Linked DNA regions of Homo sapiens. The protein of the gene in region 4 interacts with the protein of the main gene of each other region in a biochemical or structural test. Each region holds a gene or a part of one and is shown on either strand. Other genes may lie near its edges.

Region 1 (2,591 bases), on a different chromosome or scaffold from region 4:
GAAGGAACATCAGCACAGTTGAAATGCCATTACCTCAGGGTCCCAGGAACACAAGGAGTTCTTTGGCTAAAGAACCCTGGAACAAGAAGCATCATTCCCCAGGCAAAGGTGCTCCTTATCTTAAGAGCACCAGTCAGAGAAACAAGTAGTTTCTGACCGTCCCATGTACTCAGCCTCCTAGTTGCTCTAAGCACTTCTGGGCTCCTCCTGAATTTCTAAACTAAAGACCTCCAAGTGGGAGGTCAAATGCCCCCAAGGTTGAAGAGTTTATGCACAAATTCCTGAGAAATGGGGGAAAGGCACTGGGAAGGAGGTAGGGAAAAGAAGGCAGGTTTCGGGAAGGGGGGTGGCCAGGGGAGGGCCAAACCCCTTGTGTAACTAGCCTGCCCCGCGGCAATCAGTAAATATAAGCTGCACTGGGGGCTGAAGAAGCTGCCAATCTCAGCTCCCTGGGCCACTGGAAAGCATCGTTTCCCTAGTAGAATGTCACCAGTGAGGGAGGAAGGGAAAACATACAGCTTCCAATACCCAAGGCACTGAAGAGCTGGCAGAGCCTCAAGGGGAGCCTCACCATTGTCAACCCAGGGGCAACCCACCAATCAGGTACAAATATTGATTATGTACTGTGAGCTTGAGTAGGTATAGAATATGTGCTGTGAGCTTGGTGCTCTGGGAGGGCTTTGATGGGGGATGTGGGACTGGAGGACATTACACTTGGCACTTACACTCGATGAGACGAATTACATGAAACCATAAGCCACACAATATAAATTGGGTGAAATTGTGTGGCGCAGATTTTAAAAATACTATACTAGAAATTTGGCTGCCAAAGTCAAGCAGCCGCTTTATAAAAGAGGTGGAACTGAAGCTTGGTCTTGACGGAACTAGTAAAACTTAGAGAGGGGAGATCCCTCCTCGGAAAAGAGGGGAGGGGAAGATTGCACCTCACGCATTTGAGGCACAGCAGGAAGCCTGAACCTGAACTGAATGTAGTTGAGGATGTGTGTTGTGGATTGGAAGAAATAAGGCTGGGATTCAGGGAGGGGGGAAAAAGGAATCTTTAAATTCTATAGAGAGCTGGGTGGCCCAAATGCTCTGTGGGGAATGGAGCACCTGCTGTGCTGAGATTCCAGCCCTTCAGCCTATTCAGAGAACTGGCTCTGGGCAGGGCGGGTCCATCCTGGGCTGGTGCTGTACCACTGTCCCGTAAACTCTACCCAAACCTGCACTCAAGGAAAGGGGTGCAATGCTCTTTCCCACCTGAACCTAGTTCTTGCTGGGCAAGGAGCACGTCTCCCCAGTGCCCACCAGCCCCAGGTACCGCTCCCCCCACCCCCCGCAAAACACACACGAAGCCCTGGGAAGAGCAGAGTACCAGGAGCTTTTCCAGGGTGGGCATCCCCCGTGCTCTCTGCAGTGGATTATTACACGTTATCTCCCACCCGCTGTACAGAGAAGTCTGGAGCAGAGGCTGAGCAGCTTGTCTGGGAGCGGGAAATGTGTGTGGTCTCCCCTCACACCCCACCCCCACCCCTACTTCTACCAGTTTTCCCCCCTGGATTCAACTTTCTTTGAGTCTCCAGGAATACCCCTGCTGTGTTCCAGCACCCTTTTATCTTTTATCTTTTTCTCTTTTTTTGTAAATTATTTAAAGTTTTTCTTAAACTTTAATGACCTGGGAAATGAAGCCCCGAAATGAACCCTGCTGCGGTGGTGGCACCAAATCCTAAACCCTAGATCATCAGGGTCCAGCATCCTCTTAGACTTGACCGCTGGCCACTGACCTCCCCTACAGTACCTCACGCCCCTTTCCTGCCATCTCTGCCCCTCCAGAACTCGATCCGCCACAACCTGTCCCTGCACAGCAAGTTCATCAAGGTTCACAACGAGGCCACCGGCAAAAGCTCTTGGTGGATGCTGAACCCTGAGGGAGGCAAGAGCGGCAAAGCCCCCCGCCGCCGGGCCGCCTCCATGGATAGCAGCAGCAAGCTGCTCCGGGGCCGCAGTAAAGCCCCCAAGAAGAAACCATCTGTGCTGCCAGCTCCACCCGAAGGTGCCACTCCAACGAGCCCTGTCGGCCACTTTGCCAAGTGGTCAGGCAGCCCTTGCTCTCGAAACCGTGAAGAAGCCGATATGTGGACCACCTTCCGTCCACGAAGCAGTTCAAATGCCAGCAGTGTCAGCACCCGGCTGTCCCCCTTGAGGCCAGAGTCTGAGGTGCTGGCGGAGGAAATACCAGCTTCAGTCAGCAGTTATGCAGGGGGTGTCCCTCCCACCCTCAATGAAGGTCTAGAGCTGTTAGATGGGCTCAATCTCACCTCTTCCCATTCCCTGCTATCTCGGAGTGGTCTCTCTGGCTTCTCTTTGCAGCATCCTGGGGTTACCGGCCCCTTACACACCTACAGCAGCTCCCTTTTCAGCCCAGCAGAGGGGCCCCTGTCAGCAGGAGAAGGGTGCTTCTCCAGCTCCCAGGCTCTGGAGGCCCTGCTCACCTCTGATACGCCACCACCCCCTGCTGACGTCCTCATGACCCAGGTAGATCCCATTCTGTCCCAGGCTCCGACTCTTCTGTTGCTGGGGGGGCTTCCTTC
Region 2 (3,500 bases), on a different chromosome or scaffold from region 4:
AGTAGCTTCAACAGAAACCACATGTGCAGCTCTCATCACTTTTTTTCTGCTGCTCAGCATACTAATTGCAGTGATGCAGTTATAACAGCAACATGTTGATCGCCACATATGTTGCCATACTGCACTATTTTATTTATTTGTTTTTATTACCATTACATATCCATCACACCAAAACAAGAAAAGTTAACTTTGAATGTCATGCTTTTAAGGCATGGTGGAGTATGGATTATTTTGTCACTGAATTAGATGGCAAAACATTGTGTTTATTACACAATGATACTGTAGCTGTGTTAAAAGAATACAGTAAGCGTGGACATTACCATACTGAGCACTCATCAGAATATTTCTAACTCAGGAAAACAATGGTCAGAAAATAATGTAAAATAGAATATCTTAACACAACAGAATTTTTTCACAAAAATAAAAGAATGAAACTGAGGCTGCAACTAAAGTTTCTAAGTGGCTTATTTCTTGGCCAAGCAAGGAAAGCCATTTACCAATGATAGGTTAATTCATATTTGATTGCAACAGCTGAAGAAATGTATGCAGAGAAAATAAATTTATTTAAGACTGTTAGCATCTCACCAAGAACAGTTGCTTGAAGAGTTGAGGACAGTGGAGCAACATCAGTAGTCAATTAAAAGTTAAGGCAAATTAGCTCAGGTATATTTTTCCTTGGCTCTTGATGACTAGATCAATGTTATTGCTGCTTTGCAGTTGTTTATTCAAGAAGTCAGTGTTGGGCGAGGTGCAGCGGCTTACGCCTGTAATCCCAGCACTTTCGGAGGCTGAGGCGGATGGATCATGAGTTCAGGAGTTCAAAACCAGCCTGGCCAAGATGGTGAAACTCCATCTCTACTAAAAATACAAAAATTAGCCGGGCGTGGTGGTGGGCATCTGTAATCCCAGCTTACTCGGGAGGCTGAGGCAGAGAATTGTTTGAACCTGGGAGGCGGAGTTTGCAGTGAGCCGAGATTGCACCACTGCACTCCAGCCTAAGTGACAGAGTGAGACTCTGTCTCAAAAAAAAAAAAAAAAAAAAAAGTCAGTGCTGAGCTTGACAGAAGAACTAGCTCCAGTGAGTAGTCTACATGGAACAGCTATAGGAGAAAATAGCTTCAAAGCAGTTGCAAAAGTGTTAATTCAGTATAACCTGAGGTGGAATCTGCTAAGATTTATTATAACTGATAAGGGTAAAAATATGTGGAGCAGAAGACTTAGTGGAACAGATTTGCCAAGATTGAAAACGTAAGGTGTTTAAAAAGCCTATTACATTATTCATCAGCAGTACTTTGTTAGAGAAGACTTTAATCTACCTTGTGTTATTTAACCAGTAATTGTGAACAATGAACTTCATTCACTCTTGTGCACGTAACTATCAATATCAGTTCTGTGACTTTTTTTTTGAGACAGAGTCTCACTCTGTTTCTCAGGCTGGAGTGCAGTGGTGCGATCATGACTCACTTCAGCCTCAACTCCTGGGCTCAAGCAGGACCCTGGCTAATTTTTTTTTTTTGGTACAGATAGGGTCTCACAGCGTTGCCCAGACTAGTCTTGAACCCTGGCCTCAAGTGATCTTTTTGCCTTGATCTCCCAAAGTGCTGGGATTATAGGTGTGAGCTATCATGCTCAGCCAGTTTTGTGACATTTTGTTAGAAATAGAAGCTGAATATTTCTAACAAAATACTGTTAGGGTGACTTGTCTTAATGACACACTAATCTGGTGACTTAGCAGTAGCAAAGTTTTGTTGTGATTTTTCTGAACTCGGGGCCAAGAGTAAGATTTTTCTGAATCAGTACTGCCTTCGGCTACTGCTGTTGAACACTGGATGGTTTTGAAAATTAGCTTTTGCTGCAAACTTGCTAATATGTCTTAATGAATTCATCATAGAGTTACAAGGCAAAATACTGCTTTTCTGTGAAACATAAAGTGCAGTAAAGTCAATTTCACAAGTTAACATTTGAATCATAAGTAATGTCAAATTGCTTTTATATACTTTATATACTTCCAGTGGTGTCAGAAGTTAAAATAGGATGTTCATTACCACATAGATTTGCAGCAGATATATTTTCCAGGCTCAAGCTATATTTTCAGCAGTGTTTTTCAGACTTGAATGCAAATGCAAAGGAAATTTTCATATTTCAAAATTTGTTTTCACTGTACAGTTAAGGGGGTTCCATCTAACCTTCAGTTGGTAGTGACTAATCTGCAGTGTAACAGTATGTTAAAAGGCCATTATCAGGAGAAGAATGTAATACAATTCTATGAATGCCTTCCAAGCAATAAATATGCTCAATTAAAATCATACACTTGTGGATTAATATCGGTATTTGGCATTACTTGTCTATGCGAAAAGAAAGTGAAATACATAAAATCTTGTTAACACAACATCATTGACACATGAACATTTGTCATTGATTTTGATAGAGAACATTAACTTTGAACTCCAATTAAGTGAAATGTGATCCCCAAAAGAGAATTTTATTTTCCTCATTAGTAGACATGTAAGTACCTACTTAATATCCTGAATTTTGCCTCTTGACCCACAAAACCTAAAATACTTACTATGTCACCCTTTACAGAAAATGTTTGCTTAACCCTTCAGTTAAATGAGAGCCTTCCAGTTCTTCCACAGTGTTAAGATCAAACTGATAATGTGTACGAGTGAGACAGACATACATGAGATTGAAGATAATTTCAGCTTCTTAGCTCTCCTAACCTCTGTAGCGTTTTTTTTTTTTTTTTTTTTTTTTTTTGGAGTGAGAGTCTCCCTCTGTCCCCCAGGCTGGAGTGCAGTGGCACGATCTCCGCTCACTGCAGCCTCTGCCTCCGGGGTTCAAGCGATTCTTGTACTTCAGCCTACTGAGTACCTGGGATTACAGGCATGCACCACCACACCCACCTAATTTTTGTATTTTTAGTAGAGACAGGGTTTCACCACGTTGTCCAGGCTAGTTTTAAACTCCTGGCCTCAAGTGTTCCACCTGCCTCGACCTCCCAGCGTTCTGAGTTTACAGGCGTGAGCTATGGCACCTGGCCCATTTTTAAATAATGTAAAAGTATCCCATTATATTTTCAGCCTTCCCACCAGCCTCACTTCCACTTTAACCAGCAAGACAGTGGAGATTAATCAACTGAAAAAGGAAGATACAATTCACAAGACTTGTATGCTTTCTTGTGCTTGGAATTCCTAATTTTTGCTTGTACTTTTCTGCTATATCAAACCAAAGGAAGTTAATTTTGTTTTTGCTTTTATTGACTTACTAGTATCAAACACCATGTTAAATCTTGAGATCTGAAAAACATATCCAATAAAACTTACTTTCTATAATATATGACAGTATTTCTTTTTGATACTGATTCTTCTAACATAAAATATAACCAACACTTATTTTAAAATATACGGTAGGCTCATTCATAGATATTTGTGGTTAAATGTGTAATATATCTTGTAAGCGAAGAATCCATTCCATTACCAAACAAGGGCAGGTGTAGAAGA
Region 3 (3,500 bases), on a different chromosome or scaffold from region 4:
TTCAAGCTTATCACATCAGGAATCCAACTAAATGAGTTAAAAAATAAATATTGGTTTAATAATGTAAACATGTGATTGCTGTATTATTATAATGGAATAAAATTAACACGATTTAATGAACTGAGCGACCATTAATTTTTACTTGTTAATTTATTAGGAGATTTTAATGCCATTTGATGCACAGTACAGCCATTATTCTGCGTGAGCTCCTTAATGAAATAAATAAGACCAAGCAGGGCTTGCTTCAAATTGGAATCAGCTTTCATTCCTGTTAACCTTATTCTCCCACCTTTATTCACCTCTCCTTCAGCTTCCTGTAATTGCAATTAAGTTCTCTAAGATTGGAATGCAGTTTTCTTAATCAGCAAGTCTCATCAATAGTCCTAATTGACTTTTGCCCTTTTCTCCTTTGCCATATTGACTGATTAAAACAAAAGCAAAACTTAAAGACTCCATTCCCTCCCCCAAATCCCCATCTCATAGTGTTGGTTGGCTGGCAAGAGAACTGCCCAAGAAGGCTGCTCATGATGGCAGCCTGCTGAATGTGCAGGGGGTGGAAGTTCACCAGCCATGTGCAGACGTGAATGGCTGGTGCAGTGTTGGATGGGACTAACTCCTCCCTAAGGAGGGGTATGACCTTCTGTTGGCCTCTGACAAGTCCCTGAGCCATGGAGCCTTCAGTCTTCCCATCTTCAAGCACAATGGTTCCTGGAAACAGTGGGAAGTTGCCATCCTAAGCCCACCCTACAGAAGTTTGGTTTCTAATTTTACTGTGTTCTAAGCTTTAGAACCGAGACAATTCCAAGAGAACTTGTCCAGTTCATTTTTATGCCTTCCTTTAATGCCGTACCAGGTGCTAATTTCTGTGCCAGATAATGCGGACAAAATAGTGAATAAGGCAGATACTGTCCCTGGTGCCTTCTGTAGCTTCTAGTCCACTGGCTGTGAAACACAGGTTCTTTGGAGTTGTAAGAATGCTGTATGTGTTCACTCTTTAGCTAATTTGTAAATACTGTTTTTTTGGTGCCAAACCACATCCCCCAAGCTCTGCAGTTTATTGACTTGACAAGGATCTCTCTCTCTCTTTCTCTTTCTCTCTGTATAACATAATCCTTTGTTTCGACTTAACAGTTTGAGAAATAAACAAATCTATAGCATACTATCCACTGTTGGTTATCTAAGACCCTTCCTATAAACAGCAGCCTGCCACAGTGGCAACTGCTGTAGAATGTTTTGGCAGAGACTCAGTTTAAAATGAAAACACAGTAGAAGCCTATTAATTAAGAAGTTTGGCTAATTCTGGACTAGGCAAAAGTTTGTTTAGCAGGCCTTTTTGCCCCATAAATGCTGTCAAAGAAAAATTAATAAACAAGAGTTTGGGGATTATTTTGGAGGTAGGAGTCAGCAGACCTTGGTAGGTTCTAGACGTGGCTCTGTTTCTGATTAGCTGTGTGACCTGGGACAAGTCACCTTCTTTGGGCCTCGAATGTTCTCAACTGGAAAATAGGCTAGATAAACTCTATTGGAGGGCCTTTCTAACTTGGAATTGGTATTCATACAAGCATTTTATTTTATTTTATTTTATTTTTTGAGATGGAGTTTCGCTCTTGTTGCCCAGGCTAAAGTGCAATGGCGCGGTCTTGCCTCACTGCAACCTCCGCTTCCCAGGTTCAAGTGATTGTCCTGCCTCAGCCTTCTGAGTAGCTGGGATTACAGGCATGTGCCACCACACCCGGCTAATTTTGTATTTTTATCAGAGACCAGTTTCGCCATGTTGGCCAGGCTGGTCTCCAACTCCTGGCCTCAAGTGATCTGCCCGCCTCGGCCTCCCAAAGTGCTGGGATTCCAGGCCTGAGCCACCGCGCCCGGCCACATACAAACATTTTAAAAGCTCCCAGTTGCACGCATCTAGTTGATCAGTGAATGACAGATCTTTCTTAATTATTGATGTTCCAAGACTCTATCAGCCTGGTGTCAATTAATTTACATAAGTAAAAATAATAAAATTGTAATTCAGCCTTTAATTTTGGTGATTTCCCTCCCTCTTCCTTGCCTCTTCCTTACTCTGTGAGTCTAAATCAGTGAAATTTAACTACAAAGGAATATGAAAATAATGCTAGGATGAAGATGTGGAGGCTGTGCCTCTTGAGATGCAGTGAACAGTTTTTCTTCTTTTGTTGCTATTTTTGACTATTCTAAGAACAGGAAGTTTACTTAAACTAATGACCACAGATGCCTAAAAATGGTTAAATGTAAGAGGTAGGCATTATAGAGGATACCTGTGGAAAATGTTTGCTCATATGTCAAAGTTTACCCAGGAAGCTTCCTTTATTTATTTCCAAGCATCTATATAAAGAAAGGCTGCACTTGATTGCGTAAGCATGAGCCTTTTGTTAGGCAGCGTGGATGTTGCAAGTTTAAACCCCAACTAGGAAATGAAAAGTGAGTTTCCTCCTAAATAGTTCTTTTTCAGTATCACATGGCTCTCCCAGCTTACATCTGGCAAGTTTTTCTCTTGAGTGCTTTGCCGGTAGTTTAGGACTCCAGTATTGTATTGTATTGTTTGTTTGTTTCTTTATCTCTGTCTCTCTCTTTTTTTGTTTTTTGAGACGGAGTCTTGCTGTGTCGCCCAGGCTGGAGTGCAGTGGCGTGATCTCAGCTCACTGCAACCTCCGCCTCCCAGGTTCAAGCAGTTCTCCTGCCTCAGCCTCCCATGTAGCTGGGACTACAGGCGCCCGCCACCATGCCCAGCTAATTTTTGTATTTTTAGTAGAGATGGGGTAGGACTCCAGTATTAAGAAACACTGTGTATGGCTTTGCCTTTGAAACCTACAGAGTTATGAATCTGGTCCCTTTTGCTGCTAAGTGTTGCATCACAAACTGCCAAGCCAAGTTGTAACTCTGAGGTGTCACCATTTTTTTTTTCTTTTCAACTGGACATTTGAAAATAGTAATGCTTTTTGGGTGTGTGTTTTTTAAAGGTCTGTTTTTACGCTGTCACTGCTCAAAAATGCCAAAAGGCATTTTTTCCTTAAAAAATCACCTCTGGGCTAAGCCCAAATGTGGAGTAATGAATCCAGAAAGGACTTTTTGAGTAGTTACAAGTGGCTGAAAGCAGGCACTGGTGATGGAAATTGGGTTTTTCCTTTTGCTTCAAATCTTCCTGGTTGTAAACTTTTTCTTACCCTTATTGAAGTCAGACTCAAGGTGGGTCTAATTTCTCCCAGCCCATGGGAAGGCAGAGTGAATTACTGCTTGTTGTGCCAACCCTTTACATTTTGTGTGTGGCTGTTTGTCTCTACCCAGACAGGTTCTTCACATATTACCTGGGGAGCAGGAGAGGGGGAGGACAGGAAGAGCACAGTTGGGCAGAAAGAGCAAAGCCTCTCAAGTCTGATGGGTTTGGGTTTGAGTCTGACAGTTATTAGCTATGTGGTGACCTTGGGTACTTTGCTTCAACTTATTGAGCCCCAGTTTCTGCATCTGTAAAATGAGGATGA
Region 4 (3,080 bases):
CAGTCACCATCACCTGCCAACCCGGAGCCTCCTCACTTGCTGTGGTGTCTGTAGCGGGGCAGAGCGGGTCCTCAGCAGAGCGAGGGCCTTTCTTCCCTCCCCACCTTCACACACTTCTTCCGCTTTCCACCTTTCTCCAGTCTCCTTTGTCCTCTTTCTAGTTTCTGAATGCGGCAGTTTTCATATCTTTTTGTGAACACAGTCATGGTACCTGGTCCTAGGGCTCCATCAGGTTGCCAGGTGCGAGCAGTTTTCAGTAACTTGGGCTTGCGCGTTGGGGAAGTCCCACTGGTGCACTGCGGATAGCTCAGGCCTTCCCAGAGGCACTTCACGGCAGCTGTCGGCGCTTTGGGAGGGACCGGCCTCCCTCAGCCTTTCACTGTCTGGCTTCATAGTTTGAGTACAGGAGTTGGACAGGCTGTGGCAAGGGCTGATGTGACTCCCAGGTCAGAGGAAGTCGGAAGGAAGGGGGCTGGTGTCTACTGTCCGTGAGCTTACAGGCCAGGGGTTCTTGGGGCATGGGTCAGGTTATCTTTGAGCCTTCAGGGCTGTTGCCAGGAGTGAAGGTCCTTGGGAGCAACACATAGGCAGTCCATGCCCCCGTCCTGTCCATGATCCCATGTTGTCCATGATCCCATCCCGTCCATGATCCCATCTTGTCCGTGCTCCCGCCCTGTCCGGGTCTCCCACCTGTCCGTGCTCGCATCCTGTCTGGGTCTCCTATCCTGCCTGGGTCTCCTGGCACAGACCCAGACTTAGCGGTGGAGGGAAGCAGCCAGGATGCCTGGTGGTACTGGGTCCCATGCTGACACCGGCCTGTCCCCTTTCCTTGCTTGCAGGACTACGACCTCTGCATCAACTGCTATAACACGAAGAGCCATGCCCATAAGATGGTGAAGTGGGGGCTGGGCCTGGATGACGAGGGCAGCAGCCAGGGCGAGCCACAGTCAAAGAGCCCCCAGGAGTCACGCCGGCTGAGCATCCAGCGCTGCATCCAGTCGCTGGTGCACGCGTGCCAGTGCCGCAACGCCAACTGCTCGCTGCCATCCTGCCAGAAGATGAAGCGGGTGGTGCAGCACACCAAGGGCTGCAAACGCAAGACCAACGGGGGCTGCCCGGTGTGCAAGCAGCTCATCGCCCTCTGCTGCTACCACGCCAAGCACTGCCAAGAAAACAAATGCCCCGTGCCCTTCTGCCTCAACATCAAACACAAGCTCCGCCAGCAGCAGATCCAGCACCGCCTGCAGCAGGCCCAGCTCATGCGCCGGCGGATGGCCACCATGAACACCCGCAACGTGCCTCAGCAGAGTCTGCCTTCTCCTACCTCAGCACCGCCCGGGACCCCCACACAGCAGCCCAGCACACCCCAGACGCCGCAGCCCCCTGCCCAGCCCCAACCCTCACCCGTGAGCATGTCACCAGCTGGCTTCCCCAGCGTGGCCCGGACTCAGCCCCCCACCACGGTGTCCACAGGGAAGCCTACCAGCCAGGTGCCGGCCCCCCCACCCCCGGCCCAGCCCCCTCCTGCAGCGGTGGAAGCGGCTCGGCAGATCGAGCGTGAGGCCCAGCAGCAGCAGCACCTGTACCGGGTGAACATCAACAACAGCATGCCCCCAGGACGCACGGGCATGGGGACCCCGGGGAGCCAGATGGCCCCCGTGAGCCTGAATGTGCCCCGACCCAACCAGGTGAGCGGGCCCGTCATGCCCAGCATGCCTCCCGGGCAGTGGCAGCAGGCGCCCCTTCCCCAGCAGCAGCCCATGCCAGGCTTGCCCAGGCCTGTGATATCCATGCAGGCCCAGGCGGCCGTGGCTGGGCCCCGGATGCCCAGCGTGCAGCCACCCAGGAGCATCTCACCCAGCGCTCTGCAAGACCTGCTGCGGACCCTGAAGTCGCCCAGCTCCCCTCAGCAGCAACAGCAGGTGCTGAACATTCTCAAATCAAACCCGCAGCTAATGGCAGCTTTCATCAAACAGCGCACAGCCAAGTACGTGGCCAATCAGCCCGGCATGCAGCCCCAGCCTGGCCTCCAGTCCCAGCCCGGCATGCAACCCCAGCCTGGCATGCACCAGCAGCCCAGCCTGCAGAACCTGAATGCCATGCAGGCTGGCGTGCCGCGGCCCGGTGTGCCTCCACAGCAGCAGGCGATGGGAGGCCTGAACCCCCAGGGCCAGGCCTTGAACATCATGAACCCAGGACACAACCCCAACATGGCGAGTATGAATCCACAGTACCGAGAAATGTTACGGAGGCAGCTGCTGCAGCAGCAGCAGCAACAGCAGCAGCAACAACAGCAGCAACAGCAGCAGCAGCAAGGGAGTGCCGGCATGGCTGGGGGCATGGCGGGGCACGGCCAGTTCCAGCAGCCTCAAGGACCCGGAGGCTACCCACCGGCCATGCAGCAGCAGCAGCGCATGCAGCAGCATCTCCCCCTCCAGGGCAGCTCCATGGGCCAGATGGCGGCTCAGATGGGACAGCTTGGCCAGATGGGGCAGCCGGGGCTGGGGGCAGACAGCACCCCCAACATCCAGCAAGCCCTGCAGCAGCGGATTCTGCAGCAACAGCAGATGAAGCAGCAGATTGGGTCCCCAGGCCAGCCGAACCCCATGAGCCCCCAGCAACACATGCTCTCAGGACAGCCACAGGCCTCGCATCTCCCTGGCCAGCAGATCGCCACGTCCCTTAGTAACCAGGTGCGGTCTCCAGCCCCTGTCCAGTCTCCACGGCCCCAGTCCCAGCCTCCACATTCCAGCCCGTCACCACGGATACAGCCCCAGCCTTCGCCACACCACGTCTCACCCCAGACTGGTTCCCCCCACCCCGGACTCGCAGTCACCATGGCCAGCTCCATAGATCAGGGACACTTGGGGAACCCCGAACAGAGTGCAATGCTCCCCCAGCTGAACACCCCCAGCAGGAGTGCGCTGTCCAGCGAACTGTCCCTGGTCGGGGACACCACGGGGGACACGCTAGAGAAGTTTGTGGAGGGCTTGTAGCATTGTGAGAGCATCACCTTTTCCCTTTCATGTTCTTGGACCTTTTGTACTGAAAATCCAGGCATCTAGGTTCTTTTTATTCCT
Region 5 (3,500 bases), on a different chromosome or scaffold from region 4:
AATTCACAAATTTCTGAAAAGCAAAACTTGAATTTGCTACGTGCTGAGTACATACTACATTGCATCCACATAAATGAAGTTATGTGTAGGCATTGTATTAGGTCTTACATGTAATCTAGAGATGATTTAAAGTATACGGAAGGTATGTGTAGGTTACATGCATATACTGTGCCATTTCATATAAGGGTCTTTAACATTCTCAGATTTTGGTATTGAGGGGGATCCTGGAACCAATCCCCCATGGATATCGAGGGACAACCATATATGCATAGAATATCCTCTGTGGAGGATAGTCAAAATCATAGAGACAGAAAGTAGAATGGTGGTTGCTAGGGGTTGAGGGAGGGGGAAATGAGTTATTGTTTAATGGATATAAAGTTTCAGTTATGCAAGATGCAAGTAGTTATGGAGACGGATGGTAGTGTTGGTTGTACAACATTATGAATGTATTTAATACCACTAAACTACACTTAAATGGTTAAGATGGTAAATTTTATGTTTTGTATTTTCATGCAAAAAAATTGAAAAATATCTCTGGAAAACAAATAAGAAACTCACAAGAGTGGCTGACTGGAAGTGGCGGTGGCTAGGAAACAGGAGGGGGTAGTAATAGTTTTTCCTAAAAGCTTTTTTTTTTTTTTTTTTTTTTTTGAGACAGGGTCTTGCTCAGTCACCTAGGCTGAAGTACAGTGGCATGATCATGGCTCACTACACCCTCAAACTCCTTGGCCCCAGCAATCCTCTTCCCACCTCAGCCTTCTTAGTAGCTGGGACTACAGGTGCGTGCCACCATGCCCAGCTAATTAATAAATTTTTTGTGTGTGTGAAGAGGAGGTCTCACTGTGTCACCCAGAATGGTGTTGAACTCCTGGCCTCAAGTGATTCTGTTGCCTCAGCCTCCCAAAGTGCTAGGATTATAAGTGTGCTGCCACTGCATCCAGGCCATATTTTCCCTATAAGCTTTTTTATTTTATTTTATTTTATTTTTTTAAAGATGGAGTTTCACTCTTGTTGCCCAGGCTGGAGTGCGATGGCACGATCTCTGCTCACTGCAACCTCTGCCTCCCAGGTTCAAGCGATTCTTCTGCCTCAGCCTCCCGAGTAGCTGGGATTACAGGCACCTGCCACCATGCCTGGCTAATTTTTTGTATTTTTAGTAGAGATGGGGTTTCACTATGTTGGCCAGGCTGGTCTCAAATGCCTGACCTGGTGATCCCCCCACCTCAGCCTCCCAAAGTGCTGGGATTACAGGCGTGAGCCACTGTGCCTGGCCAAAAAAATTAATTTTTTAATTGGCAATAAAATATATGTATTTATTGTGTACAATATGGTGCCTTGACATATATATATATAACAAGTCCTCACTTAACATCAATAGGATCTTGGAAACTGTGACTCTAAGCAAAACAGCATAATAACAAAACTAATTTTGCCACAGGTTAATTGATATAAAAAAGAGTTAAGTTCCTATGGCATATTTCTGGTCACAAGAACATCACCAAACTTCTAAATGAAGACCCCAAACACTTCTAATACTAAACATTGAAATAAATGTGAGCTATACGTAGATGTAAAAAAGAGTAGCTTGGGCATGGTGGCTCATACCTGTAATCCTAGCACTTTGGGAGGCCAAGGTGGAGGACACTTGAAACTGGGAGTTCAAGATCAGCCTGGGCTTCAAAGCGAGACCCTGTCTCTACAAAAAATTTTAAAAATTGACCAAGTATAGTAGCGTATACCTGTAATCCCAGCTACTTGGGAGGCTGAGGTGGAAGGATCACTTGAGCCCAGGAGTTCAAAGCTGCAGTGAGCTATGATCATGCCCCTGCACTCTACCCCAGGTGATAGAACAAACCCCTGTCTCTGGAAGAAAAAAAAAAGAAGGGCTGGGCGCGGTGGCTCACGCCTGTAGTCCCAGCACTTTGGGAGGCTGAGGTGGGCGGATCACGAGGTCAAGGGATCTAGCCATCCTGGTCAACATAGTGAAACTCTATCTCTACTAAAAAATACAAAAGTTAGCTGGGTGTGGTGGTACATGCGCCTGTAGTCCCAGCTACTCGGGAGGCTGAGGCAGGAGAATCGATTGAACCCGGGAGGTGGAGGTTGCAGTGAGCTCAGATCATGCCACCACACTCCAGCCTGGCGACAGAGCGAGACTCCGTCTCAAAAAAAAAAAAAAAAGAAAGAGTAATAAAAACAGGATATTTGCCTAATTTTTGGCAAATCAATGGGTGACCACAGTCCCACTGGTGGTGGGCTAAATCAAGGAATAAATATTTCCAAAGTGAAAATTTTAAGGAGCACTGGCTACTACCATGTGGTTAAAAATCAACAAATATGACAGGTGGGTGCTTTCGTACCACATTGTTTATTGTTGTGCATACGTCACACATTTTTATTTTATAATAATTTTTATTTATCCACTCTTTTATTTTCCAACGTCTTTATTCCAGTTCAGTGTTCAGGTGGTCAGAGCCTATCCTAAGCAGCTAAGGTTACAAGGTAGAAACCAACCCTGGACAGGACGCCATTCCATCCCAGGGTGTACTCACACACACACACCCACACTCACTGAGACTGGGACTGTTTAGACACCCTGTTCACCTATCAGGCACTTACTTCGGGGTGTGGGAGGAAACTGGAGACCTGGAAGAAACCCATGAAGGAATAAGGAGAACATACGAAGTCTTCATGGACAGTGGCCTCAGCTGGAAGTAATTTATTTTTTCTCATTAATGTTGTAACAGCATGATATTGAATGAAACAGCATTTTTTGAGGACCTGCTGTACCTTGTGGAATAGCTAGATGAAACTAATTAACATATGTATTACTTATAAGTTTTTGTGGTGAGAACACATAAACCTTGCATCACTTTCTAATGTCCCAGAAGATGTTCATGTAGGTGAAAAATCTGTTTATAATTATCTGAGCCTCAAACCAAATTTGTTTAACATAAACATACAGTATTTTTTTTGTTGTTGTTGTTTTTCTGAGGTAAGGTCTCACTCTGACCCCCCAGGCTGGAGTGCAGTGGCATGGTCTTGGCTCACTGCAACCTCTGCCTCCTGGGTTCAAGTGATTCTTGTGTCTCAGCCACCTGAGTAGCTGGGATTACAGGCATGCAAGCCCAGCTAATTTTTTTTTTGTAGAAACGGGGTTTTGCCATGTTGGCCAGACTGGTCTTGAACTCCTGGACTCTACCGATCCGCCCGCCTCCGCTTCCCAGGTGCTGGGATTACAGGCGTGAGCTACCGCGCCTGGTCAACACAGAGTATTTTTTGCCTGAAGCATAGTTAATGTGTAAATCAAGGGACTGTGCTTTCTTTAGTTCAGAAAGATTATTGAGTTGGTCACTATTTTGGGAAATTATATTGCAGACAGCAATGCTGTTTGTGTTTGTTTTGAGACAGAGTCTCACTCTGTCACCCAGGCTGGAGTACAGTGGCATGATCTTGGCTCACTGCAACCTCTGCCTCCCAGGTTCAAGCAATTCTCGTGC
Region 6 (3,500 bases), on a different chromosome or scaffold from region 4:
TAGGAATGATAATAATGCTAATCATTTAAAAGTTTTTGAGGCCAAGTGCAGTGGCTCATGCCTGTAATTGCAGCACTCTAGGAGGCTGAGGCAGGTGGATCACGAGGTCAGGAGTTCAAGACCAGCCTGGCCAACATGGTGAAACTCTGTCTCTACTAAAAATACAGAAAAGTTAGCCAGGCATGGTGGCGGGCACCTGTAATCCCAGCTACTCGGGAGGCTGAGGCAGAGAATTGCTTGAACCCAGGAGGCAGAGGTTGCAGTGAGCCAAGATCATGCCACTGCACTCTAGCCTGGGCTACAGGGCGAGACTCTGTCTCCAAAAAAAAAAAAAAAAAGTTTTTGAAGAGTGAAATGAAATAACATATACAAATGACTTATACAGAGCCTGCTGCATATTTTTAAATAATATTAATAGTGTTGTTGCTTTTATTATTGTTGTAGATATCATCATCATCATTAGAATCTTGTCCTGATTTCCTAGTTCAAAGAGTAATTTCTGCAAAATCTGACTTAGCCTGCTTCTGGTCATCCACATCTGATATAAGTAGTTTGATTAAACATTGAATGATTTCAGCCTTACTGATTTTTGTTATTGTTCAAGAAACAATAGCTTGTGTTTTGTAATAGTCTTTCTCCCCTTCATTCCCGCTTCATTTCAGTTGGTGGGTTACTACAATCAAAATTTACAAGTGGAGCTTTTCTTTCACCAAGTGTCTCTGTGCAAGAATGTCGTACTCCCAGAGCAGCATCTTTAATGAATATCCCATCCACATCCTCTTGGTCTGTCCCTCCACCCCTGACTTCTGTGTTCACAATGCCCAGCCCAGCCCCTGAGGTTCCGTTGAAAACAGTGGGTACACGTAGGCAACTAGGCCTAGTCCCTCGTGAAAAGTCTGTCACCTATGGCAAGGGAAAACTCTTGATGGACATGGCCCTATTCATGGGACGCTCATTTCGTGTTGGTTGGGGCCCCAACTGGACTCTTGCTAATAGTGGAGAACAGCTGAATGGCTCTCATGAACTAGAAAATCATCAGATTGCCGATTCCATGGAGTTTGGATTCCTGCCCAATCCAGTAGCTGTTAAACCGTGAGTCACATTTCTTGATGCTTTTTGAGAAAGGCAACATGATAGGTGAAAAAAACTAATCAGGAGGATAGGGCCCTGCTTTGTCATCTTTCTAGAGAGAGAGAGAGAGAGAGAGAGAGAGAGAGAGAGAGAGAGAGAGAGAGAGAGAGTGTGTGTGTGTGTGTGTGTGTGTGTGTGTGTGTCTCAGTTTTGCTCTGTTTCCCCGGTGTGTGTGTGTGTGTTTTTGAGTCTCAGTTTTGCTCTGTTTCCCAGGCTGGGGTGCGGTGGCACGATCTCAGCTTGCTGCAACCTCTGCCTCTCAGTCTGAGGCTCTTCTCCTGCCTCAGCCTCCTGATAAGCTGGGATTACATGCACACGCCACCACACCCAGCTAATGTTTCCTGAGCTCAAGTGATTGTCCTACCTTGGCCTCCCAAAGTGCTGGGATTACAGTCATGAGCCACCTTGCCCAGCCTATCCTTCATTTTTAAAGTTGACTTTGAAAAAATAAAAAACAACCTGTAATCCCAGCACTTTGGGAGGCCAAGATGGGCGGATCACGAGGTCAGGAGATTGAGACCATCCTGGCTAACACGGTGAAACTCTGTCTCTACTAAAAATACAAAAAAAATTAGCTGGGCGTTGTGGCAGGCGCCTGTAGACCCAGCTAGTCAGGAGGCTGAGGCAGGAGAATGGTGTGAACCCGGGAGGCGGAGCTTGCAGTGAGCTGAGATCGCGCCATTGCACTCTAGCCTGGGCAACTGAATGAGACTCAGTCTCAAAAAAAAAAAAGAGAGAAAAGAAAAAGAAAAAACAACAATGTCTCTTGAACCTCACAATTAAGAATACTGATCCTAAACTTAGTTATTCTAGGTTAAGCATTATCTTGTGAATTTTGAAGGTTATTAATATCAATCTTAAAAATTAGATCAAGGGGCCGGGTACGGTGGCTCACACCTGTCATCCCAGCACTTTGGGAGGATCACTTGAGGTCAGGAGTTCGAGACCAGCCTGGCCAACATGGTAAAACCCTGTCTCTACTAAAATTACAAAAATTAGCCCAGGGTGGTGGTGCATGTTTGTAATCCCAGCTACTCAGGAGACTGAGGCAGGAGAATCGCCCTTGAACCCAGGAGGCAGAGGTTGCAGTAAGCCAAGATCACGCTACTGCATTCCAACCTCAGCGACAGTGTGAAACTCCATCTCAAAAAAAAAAAAAAAAAAAAAATTGGAACAAGCCTAGCTTAGCTATATGCTCATTGTAATTTAGAATCAGTTCTTTAGTATCTAGAAGCTTAGCCTCATGACTTTTGATACCCAAGTATAATTTGAGAAACAGGTATCCCACAATAGCTTTTGGCCCTTGAGTTTTAGCCAGTTCTAAATCTGTTAGGATTCTCATGCTTGTTATAACCTGGCCTAAGAAGCCTTTGTGTTCTGAATGCACTGATCAGATGATTTTTTTTCCCCAGTATATAGCAGATAAGTTCAGTATAGTTTAAGAAACAAAATTTCTTTAAAACTACAGTGAAATGTTTGCATTCCGTTTGTAATCATAAAAAGAAACAGTGGTTTGGTTGAAGTAAAAATCCTAGCTTCTGTCTTAGGTTCATTTTCTATTCTATTCCTCATTTGCTCTTGTAGCCTAACTGAGTCCCCATTCAAAGTTCACTTAGAAAAACTCAGTTTGAGACAAAGAAAGCCAGATGAAGACATGAAATTATATCAGACACCTCTGGAGCTCAAATTAAAACACAGCACTGTCCATGTGGATGAACTGTGTCCTCTCATTGTCCCCAATCTGGGAGTTGCTGTCATTCATGACTATGCAGATTGGGTTAAAGAAGCATCAGGAGACTTACCAGAAGCACAAAGTGAGTACACACTATGTTTCTAATGTTTGATGTCCCAATAATAGTGGTGGTAGCGTATGTTCACGGGAGGATGAATTTCCTGGCACCAGTCTAGTAGGTAAATGCCTGTGCTTGTCATTTTCTGAGGTTGAGTTTAACTAAGCAGATTCCCAAGCAAGAAGAAATTGTCACTATGTTCTTGTCACTTTGTTCTTTTACCCATTAATGTACAAATTCTTCCACAAAGAACTGTAGCAAGTCAAATCCTTGGATTTATAAAATTGAATTTCTTACCTAATCCAGAGAACATAGGGAGAGAAATACATTCCTTCTTGCTTTACTTTTTTTTTTTTTTTTTTTTTGAGACGGAGTCTCACTCTGTCACTGTAGCTGGGAGTATAGGCGCGCGCCACCACACCCAGCTAATTTTTGTATTCTTAGTAGAGACAGGGTTTCACCATATTGGCCAGGATTGTCTCGATCTCTTGACCTCGTGATCTGCCTGCCTCGACTTTCCAAAGTGCTGGGATTACAGGCGTGAGCCATCGAGCCCGGCCCCTTCTTGCTTTTCTAAAT
Region 7 (2,781 bases), on a different chromosome or scaffold from region 4:
AGGCATGAGCCACCATGCCTGGCCAATACTTCCGATTTCTATATGTATATAAACTTACATATGACTTCACAGAAATGTTTTAAGAGGACATGCACAGAACTGAGTATTTGCTCAAGCATTGTTTGTAATTTGAACTTAAATAAAAGAAGTCATGTGTCAGAAGTTAACCAGAGGACCCATAATTTCACTCTTTGGTATTTATTCAAGAGAAATGAAACCTTTCTACAAAAAGACTGGCACAAAAACATGCCTATGCAGCTAACCCTAGAAACATCGCAAGAGACTGGATACACAAATGGTGGTTATATTCATACAGTGAACTATGTCCAGCAGTGTGAAGGAACAAACCCCCATGCAGCAACATGGATGAACCTCAGATGGGCTGAGTGAAGGGACACCAGAGTACATAGTGTATGACACTCTTACATGAGGTTCTAGAATAGGAAAAAAACTAATCTCTGGTGATAAAAATCAAAACGATAGTTGCTTGGAAGGGGGCTGACCAGGAAGGGGCATGAGGGAACTTTCTGGGACAGTGGGAATGTTCTGTTGTCTTGACAGAGGTGTGGGTTATACAGGTATACACAATTGCCAAAACTGACTGAATTCTACACTTAAGATCTATGTATTCTCTGTGTGTAGATGATACTTTAAAGAGAAAAAAAGGTGACCACGGAAAATTACTGAAGAACATTTACCATTTAAAGAATGTGAAGTTTTTTCTAACATTGTTTTTTTAATGCTCATATTTAGAGAAGCTGCTCGAGAATGTCGCAGAAAGAAGAAAGAATATGTGAAATGCCTGGAAAACCGAGTTGCAGTCCTGGAAAATCAAAATAAAACTCTAATAGAAGAGTTAAAAACTTTGAAGGATCTTTATTCCAATAAAAGTGTTTGATTCCTAAGAAAGAAAATATTTTTGTGGACATGCATAAAAATTAAATGGATTTCCTAGTGGAGTTTTATAAATTAAAAGGTCAAAACTGAAGCTTTTTATTTAGGCTTTTCCAAATCAAGGATAAATATCTTACGCACGATATCTAGTGACAGAGGAGAAAGTGGAAAATGACCTCAAGGAAGCTACGGGCACAACTGGAAGCTTTGTAGAAATTAAACATATTCAAGGAGCAAGAAATGAACTTTCAGCAGTCTAAATTTTCTAAATAACCAATAGTTGCCAATCTAAAATGGCAGAGAAGATGAAATTTGATAAACTGAATTTTTTTTAAAAATCCATTTACCCTACAGGTTTGCATTTGTTTGCTGAAATTTACCTTTTTTTAGTTATATATATGTGTGTGTGTGTGTGTAATTTCTGCCAATAAATTCTAAATTACAAAGGTAAGAGAAAACCTAGTACATTACTAAATATATAAAGTATATGTTCTGATTATGTATACTTGTTCTAGTGTCAAGTCTTTTTAAGTGGGTTTTTAAAAGTTTGTTATTGGACTTGAATGGATTTTTGAGACTAGGTTAATTATTTTTGAGGTCTTATCCTAAAAGGCATCTAAGGTACATGAATGGAGTATGGTGATTTTATAACATTTTTTATCAGAATGGAAAAAGAACTGTTTAAAAGTTTGATACTTTTAAATAGTTGGTTTTTTTGCTTACTCTGGTAATGATTTTCTACAAATACATAATAAATTGTTTTTTTGAGTCTATATTCTGTATGCAGTTGAATATCCATTACTTATTCTGCTGTGCTTTAATAGAATGGAATGTTTACAGGCCCTTAAAATATTATTTTTAAAAAACCTTCTGAAGATACATACCAAAGTTTTTCCAAGAAGATTTTATAATCAATTTAATAATGTAAGGTTTATCAGATTCTATAATAGTATAGTTATTAAGGCAATTTTATGTTAGAGACTATTTTGTAATGTAGTGAGTGGTACCTTTATAAGAAAAGTGACTGCCAATATATTTTTATAGCTGATCTTTATAAATTCTAATGTTGAGTTTTTAATGATTATTTTAAATGTTTATATAGTTTAGTAAAATTTGCATCTCAAAGTATCATTTTTATATTATGGGACGTTTTCAGATTGGCTAATATTTGCATTGTAAATTTTGTATGCAGTTTATCTAAAATTCAAAAATACTGTCAGTACACCAGCGTTTAACATCTATATTCCAATTTGTATACAGTTTAAAATTGTACTGCAAAACTATTGTGTGCTCTTACACAGTATGCATCATATTGTTGTCTGTGAAATTAAAGGACATTTGATAGTCTACTGAATGTAAAATATAATGCTTGGTATATGAATGATAAGCTTGCTCCTGGCCATGCTGTTAATTATCCTAATGCTACGTAGAAATCTTCACTTAACTGATACATTTGTGTTTGACCCTCCTGATGAAATTTCTCATTAGAAGGGTCTTTTAAAATGGGACTCTGTTGACTTGGCAGCACTTTATGAAAAGAAAAAAAAGTTTGATCGCCAGGGGGATTACTTATATCACTTACTACCTTGTGTAAAGCCAGAATCTCAAACTGGTGGCCCGTTAGGCCTAAGAATATGAGGAGGTATGAGGTCACTGGGTTATGTCAAAAGACTTTTTCAACAGATGATAATATATTATTGGGTAGACACCGTGCTTGTTTACAACAGAGGTAGCCTAGCTCTTAGTGCCTTAACAGCTGGACATCTGCAAATATTTGTAAACTCTGCTGCCTTCAGACTTCTGGTGTAGGGCCTTGCTAACTAGACCCAGTTACTTACTCTAGCTGTATGAAACAGGTCAGGGCAAACCATTAATGGTTCCATAAAT

What was found.
Region 1: the proteins of CREBBP (region 4) and FOXO4 form a complex in vitro, tested with the Homo sapiens proteins (2 studies listed by BioGRID).
Region 2: the proteins of CREBBP (region 4) and GTF2B form a complex in vitro, tested with the Homo sapiens proteins (2 studies listed by BioGRID).
Region 3: the proteins of CREBBP (region 4) and SMAD3 form a complex in vitro, tested with the Homo sapiens proteins (3 studies listed by BioGRID, with this or other methods).
Region 5: of the proteins of CREBBP (region 4) and ZNF106, one has a biochemical effect on the other in vitro, tested with the Homo sapiens proteins (2 studies listed by BioGRID, with this or other methods).
Region 6: the proteins of CREBBP (region 4) and NUP98 form a complex in vitro, tested with the Homo sapiens proteins (2 studies listed by BioGRID).
Region 7: the proteins of CREBBP (region 4) and ATF1 form a complex in vitro, tested with the Homo sapiens proteins (2 studies listed by BioGRID).

What each region holds. Positions count from the first base shown.
Region 1 is NC_000023.11:71,098,851-71,101,441, forward strand, and holds part of FOXO4 (forkhead box protein O4), read left to right. Parts: intron 1-1,833; coding exon 1,834-2,591. UniProt on the Homo sapiens protein: Transcription factor involved in the regulation of the insulin signaling pathway. Binds to insulin-response elements (IREs) and can activate transcription of IGFBP1.
Region 2 is NC_000001.11:88,881,568-88,885,067, reverse strand, and holds part of GTF2B (transcription initiation factor IIB), read left to right. Parts: intron 1-3,500. UniProt on the Homo sapiens protein: General transcription factor that plays a role in transcription initiation by RNA polymerase II (Pol II). Involved in the pre-initiation complex (PIC) formation and Pol II recruitment at promoter DNA.
Region 3 is NC_000015.10:67,072,102-67,075,601, forward strand, and holds part of SMAD3 (mothers against decapentaplegic homolog 3), read left to right. Parts: intron 1-3,500. UniProt on the Homo sapiens protein: Receptor-regulated SMAD (R-SMAD) that is an intracellular signal transducer and transcriptional modulator activated by TGF-beta (transforming growth factor) and activin type 1 receptor kinases.
Region 4 is NC_000016.10:3,727,634-3,730,713, reverse strand, and holds part of CREBBP (CREB-binding protein), read left to right. Parts: intron 1-839; coding exon 840-2,996; 3' UTR 2,997-3,080. UniProt on the Homo sapiens protein: Acetylates histones, giving a specific tag for transcriptional activation. Mediates acetylation of histone H3 at 'Lys-18' and 'Lys-27' (H3K18ac and H3K27ac, respectively).
Region 5 is NC_000015.10:42,484,642-42,488,141, reverse strand, and holds part of ZNF106 (zinc finger protein 106), read left to right. Parts: intron 1-3,500. UniProt on the Homo sapiens protein: RNA-binding protein. Specifically binds to 5'-GGGGCC-3' sequence repeats in RNA. Essential for maintenance of peripheral motor neuron and skeletal muscle function.
Region 6 is NC_000011.10:3,700,055-3,703,554, reverse strand, and holds part of NUP98 (nuclear pore complex protein Nup98-Nup96 isoform 1 precursor), read left to right. Parts: intron 1-662; coding exon 663-1,092; intron 1,093-2,715; coding exon 2,716-2,945; intron 2,946-3,500. UniProt on the Homo sapiens protein: Plays a role in the nuclear pore complex (NPC) assembly and/or maintenance. NUP98 and NUP96 are involved in the bidirectional transport across the NPC. May anchor NUP153 and TPR to the NPC.
Region 7 is NC_000012.12:50,818,882-50,821,662, forward strand, and holds the end of ATF1 (cyclic AMP-dependent transcription factor ATF-1), read left to right. Parts: intron 1-753; coding exon 754-898; 3' UTR 899-2,281; downstream 2,282-2,781.